Regions from separate parts of the Homo sapiens genome. Here region 1 is linked to region 2. Evidence: fine-mapped expression QTL. A gene starts in region 2. The other region holds a variant in brackets. All regions are shown on one strand. Distances are from middle to middle. Region 1 holds the start of ZNF304 (zinc finger protein 304). Region 2 holds the start of ZNF548 (zinc finger protein 548).

What was found.
Region 1: its variant is fine-mapped to the expression of ZNF548 in lung (GTEx, PIP above 0.99).

The regions. Positions count from the first base shown.
Region 1 is chr19:57,350,264-57,353,076 of GRCh38, forward strand. ZNF304 (zinc finger protein 304) reads left to right here and starts at 1,008. Exons shown (of 3, transcript NM_020657.4): 1 at 1,008-1,434. The coding sequence starts at 1,402. RefSeq lists enhancers at 184-1,043, 1,001-1,090, 1,044-1,902, 1,241-1,310. The variant G/A (reference allele first, on the strand shown) is at 1,651.
Region 2 is chr19:57,388,344-57,391,156 of GRCh38, forward strand. It overlaps ZNF548 (zinc finger protein 548), which reads left to right and starts at 1,511. Exons shown (of 4, transcript NM_001172773.2): 1 at 1,511-1,771. The coding sequence starts at 1,757. RefSeq lists enhancers at 1,069-1,148, 1,289-1,768.

The DNA of each region.
Region 1 (2,813 bases), 38 kb before region 2:
GGTGGATCTTTGATTTATCTTCCTAAAGCAGTGTATGTGAGAACCTTGTGTTGAGGAAGACTGATAACAGCTTGTATGTATTTAGCACGATGTGCCAGGCCTGGTGTTAAGTACTTTTTACCTCACTTCCCATATTCCTAATGAGGTTGGTTGTAGTGTTTTTCATCTTACTGATTTTTTTTTGTTTGTTTTTGTTTTGTTTTGTTTTTGGCTAATGACTTTAAAAGACCTCCAGTTCTTGAACTTCAGCTAGGGTCCCATCCCCAGAGTTTATCAGAAGGTATAGGTTGGGTCCAAGAATTCACAGGTTTTTTAAGTTCATAGTGAAGCTGATGCTGTAAAACTACATATCAAATTGGGAAGCAATGAATTAGAAGAGGCTCATGTTTTCGTCATGTTACATGTAAGTTCCTCCTTCACTTTTCGCCATGAATAAAAGTTCCCTGTGGCCTCACCAGAAGCAGATACGGGCACCATGCTTCCTGTACAGCCAGCAGAAAGGTAGCTAATTACATCTCTTTTCTTTATATGTTAGAAAAATTAGAAGGACATTCAATGTTTTACAAAAAGGCCCACAAACGAAATACAGACAACGTTCAATTTATTAATACGTTTCAATCCCCAAATCTGAGAGAGGTGAAGCAGGTTTCCCAGGGCCTCAGAAGCAGGATTGAAGAATGGGTCCCTTGCTGGCGACTTCAGTGGCGTGGCATTGTCCCAGGTGGCCATGGAAATCAGGGTGCATACCCTTTAAAAGCAGCTGTGGCCTCCGAGATATCGTTTTCCCAGTCTTTTCTCCCCCTCCCTGCACGACGCCTCTTGGCAGACATCCGGGAGAACCCGAAAGGCGCTCGTTGCCTGGTTGGATGCAGGGTACAAACTACGTTACCCAGAAATCTGTGCCCAGCTCATTGTTAGCCGGCGTGCAGCCAATGACAGCCCAGAAACTGGGCGTTTCCTGCTGCTCTGGGCTGCAGGGGCGAGACTTCTGGCGTCGCCGTCGTGACGTATTTTTCCTATGCCCGGTCCGTGCATTCTGGTTGTGAAGGCTGAGTTCTAGAGATCGGGTCGGCTTTCTACGCGGCTCTCGTGGAACCTAGCAAAGAAAGACAGTGAAGACTGCAGGACCTTCCTTCGCGCTTTTGTTACAATCCATGACCCCTGTCGTGGGACGGGCGGCCTCTCGCGGAGGTGTCTGCCGGGGCTGGGCTCTTACCGAGGCCTCCACACACGTCCTCTTGTCCTTGTCTCCCCCAGAAGCAGCCGCCTTAGTCTTGTGAGCGTTTTTACACCGGGTAGATTGAGACTTGGAGTGCTACACTCAGCCCGAGGGCGTCCAGCGCGGTGGAGGCGTGGGGTTTCGGCTGAGCCCACAGGGCACAGACTGTTCATCCGCTTCTCATGGCAGCGGCGGTGCTGATGGACCGGGTTCAGGTGAGTGGGGGCATCCCTCAAGCGCACCCCGGCCTGGTTGGTGTGTCCTGGGATGTTCGCTCTCATCGCGCACTTCAGGGTGCTCACTCCGTCGCATTATGTGGAGGGGTTCCGCTCCCCTCATCAGTGGCATAAGGTGTGGAACGGACTCGAAGGCGCAGGGGCAGTTCGTACAAATGCATGCATGGAGAGGAGAATGAGTTTGGGGAGTTCCGG[G/A]AACTCTCTGTGCCTGGTGAGAACAGGGACTAGGGGGTCAGAGGTAGGCCTGGAATGGCCGCCCGAGGAGCTGGTCCTCTCTTCTGAGGGTGCTGGGAGTCATGCAAGGTTTGGTACAGAGAAGGGAGGTCCTCTGACGCAGTTCTTAAAAGGCTCCCTCTGGCTGCAGAGTGGGTAGACTAGGGATTATAGGGTAGACGGGGAGATCAAGATGAAGTCTACTGAAATAGTCCAGGTGAGCGTTGATGGTCTGGGCCAGAGTGGTGGCAGCAGAGGTTAGAGAATGTATGGGTTTTGGGTTTTGTATGTATTTTATAAGGAAGGCTGACCAGATTCTCTGATGAGACATAGTGATGATATCCTGGGATTCTTCACATGACTGTCTTCACTTGAGACAGGGGGCAGTGAATGGAGGTCATTTCTAGTTTAGTGTCCTGAATCCAGGCCATGAGTTGTATGGAGTTATGTGGAGAAGTCCCCACCTGGCGACCAATGGGATGAGTACTGCAAAAGTATATCAGACCTAGGAACAGGTACGCTCAAATGCTTGTAGGATTGAGTTTGGAGCGCTCAGGGAATCTCAGGTCTTAATTACCTTTGTTGGAAACAGGTATCAGAGGAAGGAGTTAGGCAGGAATGGCTGGCCGAGGTGTCTTGAGTGTGGTAAAAGTCGTGGGAGATTTGGAGCAGAGGAGGGAGATGATCTGACTCAGATTTTAACATGCTCTCTCTGGCTTTCAGGTTGAGAACAGACTGTGAGCATGAGGGAGCAGCTACTGCAGTAGTGTTGATGGTGTCTGGTCTAGAGGTGTGGCTGTGGAGGTGAGAGAAGTTGGTAAATTTTCTGTTTTTTAAAGTAGGGTGATTGGATTTTTTGATGCGAAAGGTGAAAGAGAGGAGAGTCGTGGATGACCCTAAGGTTGGTTTGTTTTTGCTGTAGCTGGTAAAATTATGAAAATGCCATCAACTGAGATAGAGAAGTTGGCAGCAGGTATGATTTTTAGTGGTTATATCAGGAGTTAGGCTTTGGTCATGTTTAGGTTAAGAGGTCTCAGTTGTCATCTTAGTTGAGGCCTCAGGAAAACACACAGGTTTTTAGTTCTGGGGAAGGGTTCTGTTGAAGAAGTTGAAAAAAATGGTGGCCAGTGTGTGGAGTGGGATGG
Region 2 (2,813 bases):
TTTCGGTAATTTTTTTATTTCACAAGTGTTTTTCACATTTCGACTCCCTGTGCAAATACAGTTGTAAACACAGGTGAAATTTTAAATCACTTCTGAGGAAGAAGATAACATCATGGAATTCCACACCTTTTTTGAGGATAAGATGTGCATATGCTTCAACTATGAAAACGGTAGACAATGTTGTCCAGAAATGGCATGTATCAGCTGCTCTTGAGAAATAAAAATAAAATTCTAAGCACCCCCTAACTGACTGAATGGATGCCCTCTTGACCATGAGAACCCTAGAATAACTTTGGAAGCTGAATTCACCACTATAGAGGAACGGGAAATCAGACACACCTCATTATATCCCCTACCACACTACAATCATTAGGTTTTCTTCCCTAAGGGCTAAATAGAAATCAACCTTTTCAGAAGACTACTAGCTTATCTTCCAAGGTACAGAACAGAGAGAAGATGAGATTATTCATTCCTTCATCCTTCTCTGAGACATCTTCTTTATTCCCTTTTCCCCTCACGTGTTTACTCTATCTTATGTAAAATGTAGATTTACTGGGCACTAACTAAAGTTTCACATGTCTGTAATCATTTGTCTCACTGCCAACCCCTCTTCCTTTTTAAGGAAAATGTATAATAAATACTAAACCTCCTAAGAACCTCTTTGGAAAAACCAGCCACAGATGCTTCTGTGACTTACATTTTTCTGGATGTGCCCTTAGGCTGGTCCAGTAATCCTCCATGATTTGTGACTTATGCCTCAATCACTCATTTTGGTCGTCACTCTCATTTTCAGATAGGATTGTGATTCTTAAAATAAATGGAAAATATCTCAGATATGAAGTAGTAAGTATTATTAGAATAAAAGCGTTGCACCCTTCGTAGGAACACAATCGCTGACTCTACAGTCAGGTAAGATGTATTCTCTTTGATCCAGAGGCATAGCTTCACCCTTTCAACCTACTTCAGCGTCTCCTGTCATCCTTCCTACAAATTCCAGTCCATAGCCCTAACTGCGTAGTCTTTCTTTCTTCTTCTGGACCAAACATATTGAAGCTTACTAAACAGACGCCAAAGCGTAACTGTATGTGTATTTGAAAAGCAATAATATGGCTGGCAGGCATGAGTAGAGGCAGACTGCCTTTATGGTATGGGGTGTCTCTTTGGACCTGTAGTTATTGGGAATTAGCTGTGCTTAATAGAGTCTTAAGTAATAAGTTGCTAACATTTCTGTAAATATCCTATACTACAATCCAAAAAAATACCGTATGTTGCCTTTAAGAGCAAGCCAAGCCCCCTCCTGTCTTTGGAGTCGGGGACTCCGTTTCCCAGCTCCCCTGACAGTGCCACTGGGCCTTTATCTGCCATATAAGGACTGATCAACGCTCTAAGACAAGTCCGGAAGCGGTGTCGAAACTTCATAACCCAGAAGACACTGCAGCTCTCGGCGGCACGACTTACCCAATAAAGGCTTAGAAGGGGACGTTTGCGTGCGTGCGCACCGTCGGAGGGCGGGACTTCCGCCGTCCTCCTGGTGGTGGTCGTTTTGGTTCTGTGTGGTGTTTCACCAACTTCGGCCTATGGCTCTGTCTGACGTCACCGAAGTGACGGAACGGAAAAGCGCGAGAAGCGGCTCGGTTCCCACCACGGAGAGGCGGGAGTGAGTCAACTGACAAGCGCTGGGGACAGTGGCGTCCTTGTCTTGCCTTTGTCGCTCCCGCCCCGCTCTTCCCTGGCTGGGCTGGCGGAGGCCTTGCTGATGAACCTGACTGAGGTGGGTGTCCCGTCCCAGGCTCCCCCGCCCGACCGGTCCTCCCAGTGCTGAAGCCCCCTGAAGGGGCCCTGCAGGTCAGGCCCCTTGTCCCGAAGAGAGGGGCGTTCCTGTGTGGGGTCCCCGTATCAGCCGATTTGATGCAGCCTCAGAGCTCCCGTTAGGGACCTCAGGTTCAGAGCATGGAGGCGCTGCCGAGTGGGCTGTGTTGGGGCGTCAGGGGTGTGTGTTGTTTCTGCGGGAAAGAGAGGGTTTTGTGAATTCTCGCTTGGAATGGCAACCTGAGCAGCCAGTAACCATGGAAGGTTGTCAAGGGAGGGACAGTTGGAGGGGGCAGGTCCAGAGTTCGAAGTTTCAAGTTAGGAAAACCAGGTTAGGAATGGACACAGGGAGACGCGAAAAGGCCCTGAGGCCACTGCAGTAGACCCAGGAGAATTATGGTTGGGGCTGGACCAGTGACAGTAGAGGGAGATGTGATGAGATTCTTCATAGGCCTGAAAGATAGGGCCCGTAGGTTTTCCTGGTGCTTCAGTTATGTCTGAACAAAGGCAGTGAAGAACCGTTTCAAGTGTTTGTTTTGTTTTTTGTTTTCTGTTTGAACGTTTGGAAGAATGGAGTTGGGGAAGTCAGCATAAAGAGCAGATTTCCGGGAGAAGATCACAGGTTGGATTTTGGACATGGTGATTCTCAAATGTCTCAAGATGGATATGTCACACAGACAGGTGGACATAAAGGTGTGGAGTCTGAGGAAGGGGATTGGGTTGGCGATACCAGACGGATGGAGGGCTTGGACTGGGCCAGAGAATGGTCTGAGGATCAGATTGAGTAGGTCGGTCTCGGGTTTTTTTTGTTTGTTTGTTTGCATAAATTTAAGGAGTCAAGTGCAGTTTTGTTATATGGATATATTTGCATAGTGGTCAAGTCTGGGCTTTTAATGTATCCATCGCCTGAATAATGTACATTGTATCCATTAAGTAATTTTTCATCACTCATCTTCGTCTCATCCTTCTACCTGTTTGGAGTCTCCAATGTTTGTCATTCCACA